Linked DNA regions of Homo sapiens: region 2 is linked to region 1. Evidence: fine-mapped expression QTL. Tissue or cell type: whole blood. Region 1 holds a variant in brackets; the other region holds the start of a gene. All regions are shown on one strand. Distances are between the middles of the regions.

The links. PIP is the estimated chance that this variant, and not a neighbour inherited with it, causes the effect.
Region 2: LINGO2 starts here. The variant in region 1 is fine-mapped to the expression of LINGO2 in whole blood (TOPMed, PIP above 0.99).

Annotation. Positions count from the first base shown.
Region 1 is chr9:29,261,517-29,271,677 of GRCh38, reverse strand. No RefSeq gene overlaps it. Among named protein-coding and RNA genes, the nearest start is that of LINGO2, 53 kb to the right of the region's middle. The variant CA/A (reference allele first, on the strand shown) is at 5,200.
Region 2 is chr9:29,208,684-29,218,844 of GRCh38, reverse strand. It overlaps LINGO2 (leucine rich repeat and Ig domain containing 2), which reads left to right and starts at 5,244. Exons shown (of 7, transcript NM_001258282.3): 1 at 5,244-5,923. RefSeq lists a silencer at 6,604-6,653.

The DNA.
Region 1 (10,161 bases):
TTTCTTGGAGGCTTTGTTCATTTCTTTGTATTCTTTTTTCTCTAAACTTCTCTTCTCACTTCATTTCATTCATTTGGTCTTCCATCACTGATACCCTTTCTTCCAGTTGATCGCATCGGCTACTGAAGCTTGTGCATTCATCGTGCAGTTCTCGTGCCATGGTTTTCAGCTCCATCAGGTCATTTAAGGACTTCTCTACATTGGTTTTTCTAGTTACCCATTTGTCTAATTTTTTTGAAGGTTTTTAACTTCTTTGAGATTGGTTCGAACTTCCTCCTTTAGATCAGAGTAGTTTGATTGCCTGAAGCCTTCTTCTCTCAAATCATCAAAGTCATTCTCCGTTCAGCTTTGTTCCATTGCTGGTGAGGAGCTGCATTCCTTTGGAGGAGGAGAGGTGCTCTGATTTTTAGAATTTTCAGTTTTTCTGCTCTGTTTTTTCCCCATCTTTGTGGTTTCATCTACCTTTGGTCTTTGATGATGGTGACGTACAGATGGGGTTTTGGTGTGGATGTCCTTTCTGTTTGTTAGTTTTCCTTCTAACAGTCAGGACCCTCAGCTGCAGGTCTTTTGGAGTTTGCTGGAGGTCCACTCCAGACCCTGTTTGCCTGGGTATCAGCAGTGGAGGCTGCAGAACAGCGAATATTGCTGAACAGCAAATTTTGTTGCCTGACCGTTCCTCTGGAAGTTTCGTCTCAGAGGGGTACCCAGCCGTGTGAGGTGTCAGGCTGCCCCTACTGTGAGGTGCCTCCCAGTTAGGCTATTTGAGGGTCAGGGACCCACTTGAGGAGGCAGTCTGACCATTCTCAGATCTGAAACTCCACACTGGGAGAATCAGTACTCTCTTCAAAGCTGTCAGACAGGGACATTTAAGTCTGCAGAGGTTTCTGCTGCCTTTTGTTCGGCTATGCCCTGCCCCCAGAGGTGGAGTCTATAGAGGCAGGCAGGCCTCCTTGAGCTGTGGTGGGCTCCAACCAGTTTGAGCTTCCTGGCTGCTTTGTTTACCTACTCAAGCCTCAGCAATAGCAGGCGCCCCTCCCCCAGCCTCGCTGCTGCCTTGCAGTTCAATCTCAGACTGCTGTGCTAGCAATAAGTGAGGCTCCGTGGGCATGGGACCCTCTGAGCCAGGCGCAGGATATTACCTCCTGGTGTGCCGTTTGCTAAGACCGTCGGAAAAGCACAGTATCAGGGTGGGAGTTACCCAATTTTCCAGGTGCTGTCTGTCACAGCTTTGCTTTCCTAGGAAAGGGAATTCCCTGACCCTTTGTGCTTCCTGGGTGAGGCAATGCCTCGCCCTGCTTCAGCTCACGCTCGTTGTGCTGCACCCACTGTCCAACAAGTGCCAGTGGGATGAACCCGGTACCTCAGTTGGAAATGCAGAAATCACCCATCTTCTGTGTCGCTCACGCTGGGAGCTGTAGACTGGACCTGTTCCTATTCGGCCATCTTGGAACCGCCCTTAATTTTGATTTTCTAAAAGACTTAGAGAACCAGCATGAGCAAACATGTTACTTTCTAAAATGTTTAAGGATCTTAGTGCCTAGACTTGGATTAACAGTAATCGAATTGATCCACACGTGGCCTTCTTTTATGTATGTATGCATATGTTATTGAAAGTTATGTGATTGTTCACGTTAATTTAATAAACATTTGTGAACATACTACCCAAAATAAAGGTCAAGTTCTTGACTGTAATTCATTTCTGGCCTTATGGCCTTCACCTCTGCTTCCTCCATCACACCTGCTTCCTCTTCTCCTTCATCCAAATAAATCATTATCTGCATTCTTGAGTTCATCATTCTCTTACTTTTCTTTTTATGTTTTTTTAACTTATATGTTTCAATAGAGTATATTATTTTATTTGTTTTTAACTTTATTAAAAAGGATACATTAGTATGGATAACAATTTAGGATAATTTTTCATTTCACAATATACTATCCATGTTTTTTATATAATAAATTTTGCTATAATTTGTTCAAATTGTTTTTCCATATTCCATCATATAAATATGCAATATATTCATCAACTCTCCTGTTGATGAGCATACATGTTGTTTCTAAGGTTTTGCTGTTGTGAACAGTGTTGCTATAAACATTCTTGTACATGTCTTCTGGTATACATGCATCTGAGTTTCCCTTGGCTTTATAGATAGAATTGTTGGTTGGTTCATAGAATATGTCAACATCTAAACTGATAAGATAACGTGAAAGTGGTTGTAGCATTTTACAGCCCCGCAAGCAATTTATAAGAGATAGAAGGTGTATATGGCTTCCAACACTGCATACACTCAAGCTTTTTAAATTTTTGCCAATATAATGTGACTAAAGTGAAACCTCATAGTAGTCTTGATTTACATTGCCCTCACTTTGGATGAAGTTAAACATCTTATAACATGTTTACTAGCCATGTGTGTTTCCTCTGATGTGAAATGCCTTTTCATGCATTTGCCCCATTTTTTTTCTTTGAGTTGTTGATTTTTATCTACTAATTTGTATTTCTTTAGCTAGTCGTCATAAAATGTACTCGTTGGCTGTGTTTATTGCTGATTACTTCTCCCCATTTATAACATGTTTTCACTTAGGATTATTTTTGACAAGCCAAATTTCTTAATTTTAATATTGTCAAATATTGTCAGTGCTTTTTTGTGCTTAAAATATGTTCACCAATATGTTCTACTAAGATGCTCACAGTTTGTTTTTAATATTCAAGTCCTTAATTTATCTGGAGATGATTTTATTTTTGCAAGATAGCCATTTTTCCTGTTCCATTTTTTGAATCCTCCCACATTTTCTTACTGATAAGACAGGCCACTTCTGCTGTACCTAAATGTGAATGCATAAGCTTACTTCTTGATTTTCTGTTCTATTTCATCAGCCAGTTTTCTATCCCTGTGCCACTTACATACTATCTTTATTAGTAGAGTTTATAATTAAGTCCTGATAACTTGTGTGAAGGAAGATACAATACATTGTTTATTTATAACATAAAATATGAAACAAGAATCAAAATAAATGAATTATAGCTACTTACAACTATAGGTGTATATGTATACATATGTACAACTATATGTGCGTATATATATGTGTGTGTATATATATATATATGTATATATATAGTTGTAAGTAGCTGTAGCTTTCACCTCCAAGCAAAGAAAACTTCCCACACATTATTTTTTTCTTACAAGGGATAAAAGAGATGATTGTTTCTAGTAAAGGTGATGGGTACTTTTAGGTTTGAAGCTGAAGGCTGCATGTAGTATGATTAGATCTCTCAATGGATATTACAGCTTGACCTATGTGTACCTGTAGAATGGACAGTCTCAATGTGCAGGATAGTGAAGATGGATGCATCCTTGGGTGAAGAGCCCCAAGCACTGGGAACACTACCAAAACAGTTTTTGGCCAAGGCTTTTCCTTCAGCAGAGACAAGCAGCTTTAAGAGTCACTTCTGAGATTAAAATTCACTGGCCATGAGCAGTTGGAAGAGAAGTAGGGAAGGTAATTCTTGATGCTAGTAAATCTCTATCTATTTTTCTGGGCTCTTAGTTCCTACAAGACTGCTACACTGTGTTATTTTAGTCCTAAAGACACCTAGGTGAGCAAATGTGTCACCAAATGTGAGGGTAAGCATTGATTATCTCACTCAAAATACCTGATGGGAGGAAGTACGGGCAGAATTCTAAGAACACTCCTTTATTTTATTTTTTCTTCTTGAGAAGAAAGTATTAATCTGATCTTGTCAGGTACTTTCTATTCCTCCTTCTCCAAAAGTTAACCCCAAGGAAGGGCAGAGGATCAATTAGCTAAGATGCTGTATCTAACTACTTGGTACTCTCTCTCTCCCTCTCTCTCCTCTTCCCCACATCCACCCCTGCAATCTATTCCCCCAGCATAAAAAGAACATTATATTTCTCATTCTTTTATGGTAGAAACTGTTCTTAAGTCTTACGTCTTATTTGACCTTGGTAGTATTTGTTCTTCTCATTGGTAAGGCAAGTCCTTATGTCAAAAACTAATCATCATGGCAGAAGAAAAATACTGATAAGGAAAAAAATCTCGTAACACTTTAAAACATTATCCCACTACTTAGGAAGCAAATGTCTTGTGATACATTTTATAACTGTTTATGGTATGCTACTGTGTGGAAACATTATAGTTAAACACCACTGAACAAGTCCAACACCTTCATTCTCTAATGAATTAGTTGGGACCCTAAGAGATAAGGTAGAGTGATTCTCCCAATACTTCTCCATTTATTCTGTATTGCCTTTTCTCCCCTCCATTGCACCAAATTTTCTAAGAGGTGTGTCCAGATATCTGTCTACTGGGCCAGTTAAAGGCAAAATAATGAAATCAGTAAAACAAATATGACTGGCCTTCCCAGTTCATATAGCCTCTGTCCCTCCCTTTACATTTCCGTTTATACCAGCTATTTGATACCCTCAAATTTCAACACATACCTCTCTCCCAATCAAGCTATTTTCAAAACATTACACTACAATTAATAAAATCTTACAATGCAATATATTACTTCAAACTAGAACATTTTCATGAACATTTTCATAAACATTTTGCATTCCAAAAATTCAAATAAAATGTCCTGACATGGCTCAAATTTGAAGTCAGTGCCAAAAAATTTACTGCAGCCCGACAATTTTTGTGCTGCTGTCATACCTGGGAGATATTGTGGGTTCAGTTCCAGACCACCACACTAAAGTGAGCCACATGAACTTTTGATTTCCCAGTGCATAGAAAAGTTATGTACATAATATGCTATAGTCTATTAAATGTACAATCACATTATATTTAAGAAACAATTTAAGTACCTCAATTAAAATACTATATTGCTAAAAAAAAGCTAAGTATCATCTAATCTTCAGTGAGTCATAATGTTTTTGCTCGTGGAGGGTCCTGTCTGGAGGTTGATGTCTGCTGACTGGTCAGAGTGGTGGTTGCTGAAGGTTCTGGTCTCTGTGACAAATTCTTAAGTAATGAAACAATGAAGTGTGTCACTTATTGACTCTTTCATGAAAGATTTGCCTATCATTTGTGAAGCTGTTTGATAGCATTTTTATTCACAGTGGAACTTCTTTCAGAGCTGGAGTCAATATTCTCAAACACTGCTGCTGCTTTATCAACAAGGTTTATGTAATATTTGAAAGTTTTTTGAAGTCGTTTCAACAATGTTCACAGCATCTTCAC[CA/A]GGAGTATACCACTTCCTTTTCTCAAGCATAAGAAGAAACTCCTCATCCAAGTTTTATTATGAGATTGCAGCAGTTCAGTCAGATATTCAGACTTCACTTTTAATTCTAGTTCTCTTGCTATTTCCACCTTATCTGCAGTTACTTTCTCCACTGAAGTCTTGAATCTCTCAAAGTTATCCATGAGGGCTGGAATCAACTTCTTTAAACCCTTTAATGATGTTGATATTTTGACCTCCTCTCATGAATCATGAATGTTCTTCATGGCATCTGGAATGGCGAATCCTACCCAGAAGGTTTTCAATTTACTTTGCCAGATCCATCAGAGGAGTCACTATCTATGGCAGCTATAGCCTCATAAAATGTATTCTTAAAGTGTCAGTCATAGAAAATCAAAATTAATCCTTGATCCATAAACTACAAAATGGATATTGTGTTAGCAGGCATAAAAACAACATTAATCTCCATGTATATTTTCATTAGTGCTGTTGGGTGACCAGGTGCATTGTCAATGAGCAGTAATATTTTCAAAGGATAGATATGGACAGTGGACTTAAAATATTCAGTAAACCATGCTGTAAGCAGATGTGCCATCATACTGGCTTTGTTTTTTCATTTACAGAGCACAGGCACTGTAGATTTAGCATAATTCTTAAAGGCCCTAGGATTTTCAGAATTGTCAATAAGCATTGGCTTCAACTTAAAGTCACCAGCTGCATAAGCCCCTAGCAAGAGAGCTTGTCTTTTGAAGATTTGAAACCAGGCACTGACTTCTCCTGTCTAGTTATTAAAATCCTAGACAGCATCTTCTTGCAATAGACCACTGTGGCTGTTTTGTCTACATTGAAAGACTGTTTAGTATAGCCACTTTCATCAGTTCTTTTAGCTAGATCTTCTGGATTACTTGATACAGCTTCTACATCTCCACTTGCTGCTTCACCTTGCACTTTTATGTTATAGCAACAGCTTCTTTCCTTAAACTCATGAACCAACCTCTGCTAAGTTCAAACTTTTCTTTTTCAGGCTCCTCAACTCCCTCAGCCTTCAGAGAATTGAAGAGCATTAGGGTCTTGCTCTGGATTAGGCTTCGGTTTAAGGGCATGTTGTGGTTGGCTTGATCTTGTATGCAGACCACTGAAACTCTCTCCATACCAGCAATGACTGTATCATGTTTTTATCATTTGTATGTTCACTGCAGTAACATTTTTAATTTCCTTCAATAACTTTTTTTTTTTTTTTGCATTCACAACTTGGCTAACTGTTTGCTTCAAGAGGTTTAGCCTTCAGCCTGTCTCGGCTTTCAACATGTCTTCCTCACTAAGCTTAATTATTACTAGCTTTTGAATTAAAATCAGAGATGTGCAAATTTTCCTTTCACTCAAACACCTGGAGGCCTCTGTAGATTTATTATTTGGCATAATTTCAGTATTCTTGTGTTTTAGTGAATAGGGAAAGGGAGAGAGATGGGGGAACACCCAGTCAGTGGAGCAGTCAGAACATACATAATATTTATTAAGTTCACTATCTTATGTGGGTCCAGTTTGTATCACCCCCAAATAATTACAATAATAATGTCAAAGATCACTTATCACAGATGACCGTAACAGGCATAATAATAGTGAAGAGATTGAATATTGTGAGAACTACCAAAATGTGACACAGGAAGTGACCACATGATGTTGGAAAATGGCCACAATAGACTTGCTTGACACAGGGTTGCCATAAAGCATCAATTTGTAAAAATGCAGCATCTGCAAAATGCAATAAACTGAAGCACAATAAAACAAGATATGCCTGCCTTTTCAGGTCACACATATACTCCAGTCATATTTGTAACAATTTTAATGTATTGGAATTACAGATTTATCATAGCCAATTCTAATACAATAGAAAGTTTCATTAGATATTTAATTATAATATTAACTAAATGGATACTGTCCCAACTAAAATAACGTTATTCTTGAAATATAAATTCATTTAGAAAAGAAAGATCTGCTTTTGAGATAATAGGGTACTTTAAATTGTTATAAATAATTTTTTAAAATTAATATAATACCTATAAATAAGAAATTTAGTAAACCTGATTTTACAATAATTACAGTAATGAGCAAAGCAGCCCTATCCTCTTAAACATTTACAGGCTTGGAAAGAATTGTTTTGTGAAGGGTTGTATGTTAATTAGAGACTTGTAGCACATTAAACATGATGCCTTACAAACATATGTTTTAGTTTTTTCTTTTCCCACTTTGACACATTAATATGATAGTAACCAGAATTAGTAACATAGAAAGCCAAATTTAATAAGCCAAAGTCAAATTAGACTAAATCAATCAAATATATTCCTAATTTTAAAAAAACTTATATTTGCTGCTATATATTTTAAAATACTACTTAAAAATACTTGTCTATTGCTTTTTCACCTATTGCTCTTCTTTTTCCATCACTGAAAATCAGGGCCAGTCACTGTGATTTTATGATTGCTCTTCTAAAAGTTTCACAGGATAAAAGCACTTGACCTACATTTTCCTTTAGGCTCTTCCTTCTGAAACCTGAAAAAAAAAAATCAGAGTTCACAGTAAGAACAATAATTGTTCCTGCACCACCTATACCTTTATTCTCAAGGTTCTGCAATCAACTGTGATAGCATTTGAAGATACTAATCAGTCAGACTCTGAGATAATTGATTCCAGAAAAGATGCATGAATGACTTCCTTTCCATTTCTTTATATCTGTGTGTAGCTCCAAATAGAAAATTCAGTAACATCAATGACCCAAAACTCCTATGAATAGATGTGTTAACTCATAATATATAAAAAAGTAGAAAGCATGATGGAATTTGTGTTATACCATTAACATTTACACTTGTTTTTGAGAGAGGCTCTGGTTCAAGACACACTAGGCACAAAAGTTCTCTCCTTTCCTATCAAGAACCAAAGAACTTGAGGGTAGTGAGGATCTGGCTACAGGCTCTCCCACAGTTCTTTTTTGATTAGACCCTTTGATATGCCAACTTGAACCCTAAGAAGACCAGCCTAGAGATCTACATCTGAGACATAACAGAGATTCATGTCTCATCATGTACACAGGAATCACAGACCAGTATAAAATATACAGAATCTAGGTCTGCATAAAATATAGGTAATGAAGTTTTCTTACTTCTTCCATGTAAGTCTCCTAATGAAAGAACCTCAGGGTGCCATGTACACTCTCTTGTATACTACAAGCCCAGTTTAATTTTGGACATAACATTCTCATGAGCAGCTAATAATGTGTTGTCTATATTTTATTTATTTTTGTATTCCCAGCCCTTAATGTAATGAGTGCCACATAGTAGTAACATAAAGTTTAGGCAGAACTGAACAAAATAGAGATGTTCGCATATGCTATGGAATCACAAAGAATTAAAAATTACAAATATCTCTGCATTACAAAATGCCACCCAATCAATGAAATTATATTTATAAAACCCAAGGTATAAATTCTTAGCTGGAACATCCTCCCTAAAGGGAGAGTGAGTTATGATTTTTGAAATACTTGGGAGTAAATATTTTTAAAGTAGTCCTTATTTTATATGAAACAATCATATAGAATACTTGATACTAAAGTCAGAAGTAGAAAGAAAATCACAATGGAAATTCATAAAACCCACCAGTTTATGTAGATTTATTTATTTATTTATTTATTTTGACATTTTTTTTTTCTCCATGAAATCTCTGTTGCACTTGGAAAGGCTGTTACCTATCTTTAGGCAGGAACTTAGTGGTGTTCTTAAAAGAAAGATTGTCTCTGGGCACACAGAGTGCTTAGTTTGCCAGGATGGTTGACCTAACAATAAGAGTCTGGATAATTACACTCACAGTGTATTCAGCCTTATAATTCTCTGCATTGACAGGAAGGAAAAATAAATGTTTTCTGAACCAGTTGTCAAAAAGTTGCTCTCTTCGAACAAGCATAGTTTTACCTTAGCGCAGTTTTGAAATAGAAGGTAATACACTTTAGAATTTTCTTTACTAAGGTCATTTAGAATTAAGACAGTTTCTTGTCTGTCTGGACTTGTTTAATTCTGGCTTTACAAAAAAATGAGACAGAAGGTAGAATGCCATTTAGACAGCTTTTTCTACCCCAGTATATACATGACATTGTACCACCTATATCTCCCTTCAAGGTAATTTGTTGCCCAGATACACAGTGCAGTTGGCAGATGGCTTTCATCTGTCCCATCATTTAGGGTCTATCTCAGCTGCACTGACATACCTCAGCCTGATGAGGAACAACTCGGAGAGGCATGAATCACTGCCAGGTTTCCCTCTGAGTTAGCCAAGGCTTTGGAGAGCCTTCATCACAACTTCGCCCTCTGTCCAACAGTTCTTCTTCTTTCCTTTCGCAGGTATTGATACGTAATAAACCTCTTGAACCCTATAGTGTCTCAGCTTCCATTTCAGAGAAACTCAAATTGAGATCAGAGATATCAAAACTGGCCCAATAAAGTGGACAATAAGATGAGGTTTTTGGATTAATCAGTGTCCTGTTAAATGAGGACCCTGTCACTGGTGGTAGGGGGAACACACATTGTCCTGGATGCACAATGGTAGTCCAGCTGTTAAAATGTTTACAGGGGTGAGTTGGGATGGTGCTGGTAGGATGGGATACACTGATGAGTTTTAGTATAGAATGGCTGTTTATAAATGTTATTGATGCATTGCATAAAGATAAAGAACAGATGAGGGTGAGTAAAAGGCAATCGAAAAGCAAGGTGAAAACCAAATGATCTTGGTTGCATCAAAGCTCTCATTTCCTGCAACAGAAGAGCAAAGGAAGCCGAGAACCATGTCTATGATATAAATGTTGGAGTGACAGAACTGCAAAGATAGTTAAATGACAGATAAAGTCAGGTCTATTATGCCAAGGTCAGGACCTTTGTTAAGACATTTTGAGATTTTGCTATTTGGGTGGATGTCTCCGA
Region 2 (10,161 bases), 53 kb after region 1:
AGCCTAAACTAAATAATTTCAAAGGTACAAACAAAAGGCTTATCAAAAGTTTCAAAATAATGGCTCTGCAGGTCTTTCTTTCCTGTGAAAGCCACATCTCTTTAGCCCAGAATACATAAAGCCTCCAAGTGAGGCGTGCATGGTTCCTCATACAGTTGGTAATGCTTCAATTATAAAACATCTCCATTTTATACCCCAGCACTGCAAACACTATATGCCATTTTCCAGGAAGCCATCCCTTATAAATTCTGGTTCTATCTATTATAGGTAATCCTTAGTCAGATATCCTACTAAGGGCCCAAAGACAACCCTCTTCCTTCTAGCAAATACCATTAGTCTATTTACCCAGGGGAGGTAGAATTGACAAGGAGATTAGACCTGCTCACTTGTTATGGACTAAACGTTGTACCTTCTTCCCACCCCAAATTCATGTGCTGAAGCTCTAACATCTAATGTGGTGGTGTGTAGAGATGAGACCTTTGGGAGGTAATTAGGGTTAGACAGGTCATGTGAGTGGGACCTTCATGATAGGATTAGTTGCTATATAAACTGTGGCTGAAATGTCTCTGTTTCTTTTTCTCTCTTCCCCCCAACACACACTGAGAAAAGGCCATGTGAGGACATAGTTAGAAGGCAGCTGTATGCAGGCTAGGAAAAGAGCCATCACCAAGAACCAAATTGGCTAGCATCTTAATCTTGGCCTTCCAAGAACTGTGAAAAATGTTTCTCACAGAACTCCAGAACTGTGAGAAATACATTCCTACTATTTAAGCTACCCATGCGGTGGTATTTTGTTACAGTAGTCTGAACTAAGAAACCCCTTTTTGCTTCTTTCCCTCAAGGTCTCTCCCTGGCAGGAGTAAATGAGCAAATGTATTGCAGGCCAGGTTATTTCACAACTTTCACCTACCCTTTTTAAAAACAACAACAACAACAGCAACAAACATCTTTTTTAAGTAAAAGGCGGAGATACATCTGTTATACTTTTCTTTCCATGCAACCCCTCAAAGGCACTCTTTTATTTTATAAGGTAAAACTTACACACGGTTCCAAAATCAAAAGAACATAAAAAGTCTAACCTCTACCTTTGATACCATCTGCCCACTTACACCATGACCCCAACCAATTTTATTAATTTTTGGAGACAACACCTTGCTTCACCTTGCAATTTTCACCTAAAAATATCATGGAGACCTTTTTATACCAATTAAGGAGAATTTCCTCATTATTTTACATAGCAGCTTAATCTTCCATGATATGGATATTTTGTATTTGTACTGTAATGATCCAAGGTATAAAAGATGTTTTATAATATGAGCTGTTGAAATTGACAACTATAACACATTTCTATGGCATGTTCCTATGTCATTCTGTATTCAGTGTTGTCTGTGTTCTGAGGCTTTTATTTTTATTAGTTTTAAAATTGTGGCAATTAGCCAACATGAGATCTGTCCTCTTAATACATTTTTAAGTGTATAATACAGTATGGTTAATTATAGGCACATTATTGTACAATAGATCTCTAGAATTTATTCATCTTACACAACTGAGATTTTATAATAGCCTCCTCTGTTTTACATAAGAGTATCAACATGGAAGTAAACAATAAAAAGTTTTCTATATCCATAAAATTCCCAATGGCCTGACTCCCCTCTCTGAAAGGAAACCCATAACTCAGCATTTGGCATTCCCATGAAAATAATGCCAAGAAGACACTCTCCTATTTTAACCCAATAAGAGAAGTAAACTGGTCCTGTGTTTTGATACTCAAATAGATATTGACTCGATTGCATGAGAGGTAAGGAACTCATTTTTAAATTTGCCTCTTTTTAGCATTAACAACATATAAATTCCTTTTAGCCTTGAATAATTGAAAATGTGGGGACCTGGCTATTTGAACAGAGCAAAATGATGAATAGTGCAGGCTTCAGAGTCAGAAAGATACTGTGTAGGTTCCATACTTAATTGTGACAAAACAGATTTGTCACCTTAGGTAAATTTGCATAAGCCTCAATCTCCCTGTAATTTGAGGACATAAAATTTAGGTAAGCAGGTTGTAAACAGGATCAACTGATATAATGTACATAAATCACATTACATAGTCATTAAGTCATTACTCAATACATGGTCGCTTTCATCATCATCATCATCATCATATACATCTATTTTATTGTGTACTAGATTCTGTATAGATTCTGGGGAACAACAATGTAAATGACAAGATCCGTGCTCTCAGAGCTCACAGTACAGTAGCAAAGGCATACCAGTAAAGAAAGAATAGCTTTTATCTATGAAAAGACAGTACACCAATAGACTGAATGCTATGCTCTAGAGAAGTAAAAGGTGTTCTGAAAATGGCAGTTTGTAGAGAAATGATCTTAAGGAGGGAAAAGGATCAAGATGTTTCCATTGGAAGAGATATCATATATTTCAAATTCAATTATCAGAAAACATAAATACATAGACAACACTGGAATAATGCTGTAGTTATTTTAATTTGGTGGTGAAATCAGATTCTTGGATCTGACAGTATCTTTGAGTCTCAATAGTTTCTTTTCAATTCCATAGATAGACCTAAGGGTAGCGGGAATGGGGTACATCCTCTGATCCTGAGGTTTGCTCTCCTTGTTTGTTAAATAATTTCCCCCATAAAAGCAAAATGTAAAAGGCGAGGGGGAAAAGGGTGATCCTTATCCTCTTCCATTTTTTGAACAGGATCCATAAATCTACAGGTTTTTATTATTTTTTTTGAGGGTGCTTAAATGTCAAGAATATTATGCTATGGATTACCACTACTGCATACACATCGCATACATCAAAAACTCAAAGCAAGTAAAAAGACTTCGCCATGGCTGGTACAAGACTTTCCACAACATTTCCTACCACTGTAAGGCACCCTTCACGTATTAAAGTTAATGAATATGTAAATAACCTATGTTTACTTTAAACAGAAACTTCAGTTGCAGACAGTGGCCTGCATACCAACAGCAACCAAGAAAGGAATTTGAAGTCACAACCTTTTTGGAGAGGAGTCGCTCTAAATTCTGAATTTTCTTGAACCAAGTGAGTCTCTTCATTACAGCTCTGCAATTCATGCCTAATAGTCTGCAGAATATTTTATTGGTAATTGATAGGCTTATACAATCAGAAATCATAAGTTAAAGATGGCCTTTTGTTGGAAATAGTTTATTATAATTCTTATTCCCACTTCATTATCAGGAACAGTCATTTATTAATTAGGAATAAGAATTAGAACTCGAAGAGGCATCAAATATTGCGGCACGCAGACAATGTATAGATTCATACCAGGTTCCAAAATACTGCCGAACATCCTCCTCTTGAAAGGCTGCAAAAGAGTCACTGTCGAAGATACATTTTAGGACATCAAACCTAAAAACTCAATCCTGGCAAACTAATACACACGCAAACAAAATGCCTCTTTTTATTCCTTAGCACCTCATCACCGATTTCATTATTCACTTCTTCAGGCAAGCTGCGCGGGTTAGCTTCAAGCTCTTCCCTTAATTGCACCAGAAGTTAAGTCTGGGCGTTGGACATACACACTCTAAATCCTTACGCGTGGGTCTGTCTGTGAACAGCCCGGAGCAGCGGAGCAAGTTAGTGGGAGGGTATCGCCAACTGTCTGCTCGCTCCAAGTGGCAGCCTTCATGGATCCATCACCCCTAAACCCACAGCCCCTGTCACTGCCTCTGCACTGAGTCGGCTCAAACAGAATCCAAAGCAGGTTCATCCCTGAAATTCAGACTTGCGCCTGAAGTTACCGGTCCGGAGCCCCTGGGAGCCGCAACGCTCACTGTGGAATGCTCTGGATCGATTTCAGAGCTGTGAGTAGCGCTGCTAGAGGTCATCCTACAAGTTTCATCTTTTGTATTAAATCTTCACTTCTGCGCTCTGCGACTCCACGTTTGCCGCTCAGGAACTCGGTTCCCGGCAAAGTCAACCGCCTTCCAATTTGGAGAGGGACAGTCAAGAACTCCCTTGATTTTGAGGAGATTCTCGATGGAGACGGCGGCGGTGGGTGGCGGAGCGGAGCATCCAGCGCCAGAGCAAAGGAACCTGGTGCCATCTCCAAGCTGGGCAACTTTGCGTTTTCCGCTAGCAGGTCCGAAGCCATAGATATTCGCGAAGCCCCAGAGGGCAGAAATCCTCAGCAATCCTCTGTCTCACAGTTGAAAAGGCAGAGTAGCGCTCTGTTGCAATAGAAACTACGCGGAGCACAAATGCAAGCTTTGGTTAAAAAAAGCACAAAAAACAAAAAAACAACGGGCAAAAGTTTACTCTCTGTAAGCAATTAATTCCTGCAGCCCATTCCGGGTAAAACAAACTCCTCTTGGGAAGCTCCTTTCGTGGGAGTTGTGGATGACACGGGGGCGCTTCTGAGAGCGAAGTCTCTCCTGCCTGGGACGCCCCAGCGGTGTAGCACCCAGTGATCCCTCCCGACCGTCGAGGGAAGAAAAAGAAGTTGGGACAGGAGCTAGCCAGAGACCCGGACAGCTACTCCTGGTGCAAAACCTTGGAAATGGCTGCTAAAGGGGTTGGGTCTCCAGACTCCTAATCCCTCCCCTTTCTCCAGCTGAGCCGTTCACCTGCTACCGTCCAGTTTACAATATAAGCGTAGCACCTAAATTAACCCAGTTCCAAAAGCTAGGCACTACAATTCCCTAAGAAATTCATTTTCAAAACATCTAAGCGACTTTCGGGAGCTCCTTGGGGGAAATGTTACGAAGGGAGTGGGCAGGTAAAGACGGGATGCGAGGGGATTATGTTCACGAAGCGATGTGTAGGCTCCTCTATTCGAAGGACCTCGGGGAGCCCCTCAGCTCCCAGGAGAGCTGCTGCAGCCACTTCAATTCTCCACTACAGAAGGGGCGGAGGTGGCCCCTGGAGGGTGGCGATGGGAACGGGGCTCATCTTTAGTCTGGTGGCCTCTCGCTGGGTGTCGAGGGGGTGTAACTGGCTTCAAGAAAAGAGCTAGGGAGTTGAAATGCCAGACAGGGCAGAGAACGGAGAGGTGGCCCAACGGACTTAACGGCGTGCGGCGAGGAACTGCCTGCCGGCAATCCGCTAACTAGTGAGGATTGATTGACTCTTTCTGTCATCAGCATCCTTGGAACCCCTACCCCTCCTCAGGACTCCCGACTTTTCGCTCGCCACTGGCCGGGGGCCGCGGGCGCAGGGCTGGGCGTGCGTGTGTAGCTGCGCGCGCGCGGGTGTGCGCGCCTGTGTGTGTGCGCAGCCCGAGCTCTGAGCCCGGCTGCCAAGCCCCAGCCGGCTATCCTGCGTCCCGCCTTGCAGCCGCCTCCTCAAAGCCTCCTCACCTGGCGCCGCCGCCCGCCGCCCGCCCAGCCCCGCACCGGCGCTGCCTCCCCTGAAAGTTTCCCCAGCGTAGACACCTTCGCGCTGCAGCAGCCCAGGGAGACGGTGTTCCGAAGCTGTGCCTTGGAGTGGCTCTTCTTACACCTTTCCGCCTCATCCCCACCTAATTCGGGCAGGGAGTAGAAATTTTTCCAAATTAAGGGGAGAAAGGGGGGAGGGGCATTATCGAGAGAAAGCAAGAGGAGCGGCCGCAACTGAGAATATCCTGCCTGATGCCAGGGAATTGACTGACGTGTCTGTGGGGTTACGGAAGAAAACTGAATAGGCAGCCAAGTTGGCCCAGGAGGGGCTGGGAGGCTTCCGGGTGCCGGGAAGGTGGTCCCGGTCTCCATTTCCACTGGTACGAAGGCTTGGAGGCGCCTCTATGGTGAGGGCTTTTGAACCGCCATCCCCTCCTGATCCCTTGGAAAGGAGGAGCCTTCAGAGCTGAGGAGGGGGAAGTCCAGGAAAAGCCCCTGGACTTGTGTGCGTCGCATCCTTGGCTTGGGATTTTAAGGACACGAAGGAGAATTAACAGCGCCTCAAGGTAAGAGGCAGCAAAGCTGCTGCTTGAATTGCCAGAGACAATAACTTAAAATAGATGTTGGGGATGGGGTGGGGGTTAAGTCAAGTTAGGAGGATCTCTCCGGGCGTCGCTACGCGATCGCACGACCCGCCTGGCAAGTCAGGGAGTAGCCGGTGCGGCGCTGCCCAGCTGCGAGGCAGGAAGCCAGAGGAGTGTCCTGTCCTCACACTTTCTGAAACCTATTGGAAAACGATTTCGGACTGGGTTCTCTGTGGAGGTTGATATACAGCGTGGATTTGGGTTTTGGGTTTTCGTTTTTTTACCAGAGAGGTTTTTTTTTTAAATTTTTATTAGCACCGCAGACCCACCCCCAATTGCCATAGAGAGCTGTGGGCACCGGTGAACGCAACTAGGACGCGGTGGCAGGTGAGCCTGGCGCAGGTGGGCAGGTGGGGGCGGCGGCGGCACCCGGCCTGCGGACTCGGGGGCGCGCGAAGCCCACGCTGCCGCTTGGCCGGCTCCCTGCAACCGGCGTCGGAACCTGGGCGCCGCAGGTCGCCTGCTGTTCCCTTCGCCTCCGCTAGAGGCTCCCAGCGGGCGCCGCGGAGCGGGTGGGTGTGGGGGCGCCAGGAGGCGGCGGGGTGAGCGCGGAGAGCCAGCGTGCTCGCGGGGTGGCGGAGCCCGCGCGGCAGGGGCGGGGGACGTGAGCGGCAGTCCCGGCGCGCTTCCGAGCTCCGCACCGCGCCGCGGGGACGCAGGTCCGAACCCGGCTGAGCTCTGGAAAGCTGTGCCTTGAACTGGAGCCACTTCGGGGATGAGATCCTGACCCGCACCCTGAGGGCAGCCCCGGGAGGTAATGCCCTCTTTCTCCTCCACTCTCCTTTCGCCTCTTGGTTCTCTGTAAATTCTCAGTCAGATACTCAGGGTGGGAGGGAGTGAAGGGTGAGAGAGAGTCTATAGGGTCTGTATCTAAAAAAGGTGCCTTTCAGTGTTGCTCCGTGGTGCTCTGTTGTATGTGTATTCGAACTAATGCCCAATTTCCCCCGCCTCCCTTGAATATTTGGCTGCTTTAAGGGAAGTTTTTTGCGGAGAACGCTGGGTGGTTGGTCTGGGCCAGGCTGCTCCGAGGTGAGCTAGGGGACCTGCTGTGCCCGCTTTGAGCCGCAGTAGACTGGAGTGCAAGACTCCAGGGATGGGGTGTGGTGGAGAAAACGAGTACCACACCCTCTTCTTTTCCTCTTCACCTGCTGGTGAAGTCTCCCCATTCAGCATTTTGCTGATTTCCTTTTCCGAGGGATTGGCTCAGAGAACTGAGGAAAGCTGCTGAAATACTTGGAGGGAGGGAGGGAGAGAGAGAGAGAGAAGAGAAGAGAAGAGAAGAGAAGGATGAGAAGGAAGTCATGGTCTGAGCATCAGAAGAGGAAGGAGGGCGAAGTTAAGCTTGTGTGTTTGAGGTGGGGGAGTGAGTGCTGGGAAATGGCCTTGGAGTTCAGTTTATTTGATGAAGTCAGATTCACTTCACATTTCACACTTTGACATAATCCAGTTTGCTGAAGCCACCTAACAGATATTATCTGTGCTGTGTACTGCCTTGGGCTCAGTGGGCACTGAATATGTTTGATGAGTGTGTCTAAGCAATAGATAAATAAATAAATGAAAGAGTGCTTATTGTGTTTGCTTGGTGTGATTACCCCCGTGTCTGTCAGCCGGTAATGTATGTATTTTTCAGCGTGCTGTGCTGTGTTTGTGCATACCATATGTGGTCATTTTACACTCAGTAATGCAGTTTCAGGGTCTTGGAAAGGTGGCTCTTAACAAAGACGAATATTTAGAATAATACTAAAGGAAGACCAAAAATTACCATCGGGTGTGGAATATTCCAGGAATACTGAATAGAAGCTGAGATCCATCATTGGTGAAAATATTGGGCCACATACTGAAAGGGCAAAAAATATTTTTCAGAAATTAGAAGCAGTGGTTAACATTTTAAAAGAAGGAGATGTTCTTTAGGGTTCTGTCACCATCACCCAGTAGCATGCGTTACTCCCAATACAGTTGGAGTGTGAGGAAGAAAAAAAAATGTACTTCCTGTTCAAAACCAGTAAAATGTTTTGAGATCTGCCAGGTATTTCACCTTAAGAATTTAAATGGAATGGATTGCCTATTGATGGCAGAAGTGGTTTAGTTATGTAAGGCATCTATTATTTTTGATTAAGGTACATATATGTTAATATTTTTATATAATTTTACTGTAGTGGGAATGGAAGCAGGACAATTTATTGATGTTTTTCATTGCTGAATAACACATAGCATTATCTCAGGGAAGATTTATATAAAGTTTGTCATTCATGTATTATAGTGGATGATGCTCTGTGTGGAAGGCAAGAATATATATCTTGATGAAGTCCCAAAAAGGATCGTTTGTGTTCTTAAAATACAGTATTTTAGAAATTTTTATGGTGTGAAAAAGTGATACTCATCTGAATATAGGTACAACTTATATATACACTAATCATTTATTTGTTGAATTAAATTAACAAAGACATACATATTTAGGGCTCAAATGTATTTCTGAAAGACACCTCTAAAACCAAAGGAAGATCTGCTATTAAGACTCTGTGTATATGATGTATAAGGGAAGTTTTCTTTCTTGACATTTAATCTAATTAAACTGGTGAGGCTGGTTTGTAATCTCGAGTCAGTTTTAGGACTCCATCTCTAAAGATGCTTTCCTCTCTAATAAATGTGATTTTAAAAGAGACCAAACATTAAAATGTTCCACAGCTGTCATGGACCAGAAAACCATTTGAGTCCTCTGCAACTTCATGTCAAGAATAAGAAGTGATAGGAAGTTGTCACAAATTAATTGGCTTGATACTTCAATTAAAAACTGATTATGATCTGGCTCTGGTAGTCATTATGGTTGATTTCGTTTGGTCTCTAGATATTCTGTGAAAGGACTCTAGGTGGAAATGTTTTCCTGTAGTACAAGGAGAGGAGGTCACTATATGCAAAGAGGTTTGTCAGTTACTGATTCTCCAATTTGGTTGTGTTGTATCCTTAAGGAAGCATGTTAGATTGAAAAAAAATCCATTTTCTCAATTTATGTAAATATTTCTCTTTGTCATAGCCCTCAACCAACCTCTGAGTACTGTATTTATAATTTTGTTGAAATATGTCACCAAGCCTCTTCCCTTTATGGTTTAGGGGCTACTTTGATGTTAATAACTTTAAAAACTATTCAAGCATAAAATACCGTATTTCCTGAAAGAAAATAAATTAAATTTAAAAAGGGTTTGGGGTAAGGAAATTAAGGGAGAATATGAGGGAAAGGTTAAATTCCAGGTATCAGGCTTACCCATCTAATGGCATATACTTCTGTGATTTTTCTGTTATGCTTCTAAAGAAATCCTTCCTTCCTTCCTTCCTTTTCTTCTTCCCTCTTTTTCCTTTAAAATATTTCCTTCAGAATTAAATCCATGCTAATTTACAGTTACTTTATAATGGTCAGTCCATAATTTACTTTTAAGTGGGTGATAGTCTTAAAATACTAAGATTGTTGCATTTATTTTTTAATTTTATACAAAAATTGACTAGAAGGTGGGTTTGGGTCTTTAGGGAGTTCGAGTCATCAGTTTATTATCGTCTCTTAAATTGTAAATGCATCTTGTGTCTCGCTGCAACTTCACTGCCTTTCGTTTCTGGAAAGTGTAAAAGCATGGATAGGTATTCATTTGACATAGGTGGACAGCCTAAGAACATGGTGCGTTTGTGCTTTGAGTGGCTTATTTTCATATGATTAATACTCTGTGAACAAATTGGCCAATGTAATCAAATATGTAATGTTCATATTCAGCAAGTAGTAGAGTGACATTTGTCAGTGTATATTGGTTCAGAAATAAGTATCATATTTTAGGAAACCTTAGCTTCATCTAAACCTTCATAAAAGTTACTTTTTAAAAAAAGGATTATCACTCAACAGATACAGTTGCTGTATCTATTCTTAAATGTCCTCAAGAGAGAAGATCCTAGTTCTAAAAATCTCCCAAGAGAAACTAATCCAGTGCCACTGGGAGGCAGCATGAATAAATAGAAAAAGCAGTGGATCTGACACCAGAAGACTTGAATTCCACTGTGTTTCTCATGACTAGCAGTGTCTTCTTTGAAAAGCTGTCTTATTTTTTCTAAGGCTCAGTGTTGATTTCTGTACAATGGGAATGTTTAATATCTACCTACTCTATGTTTAAAAATTGATAACA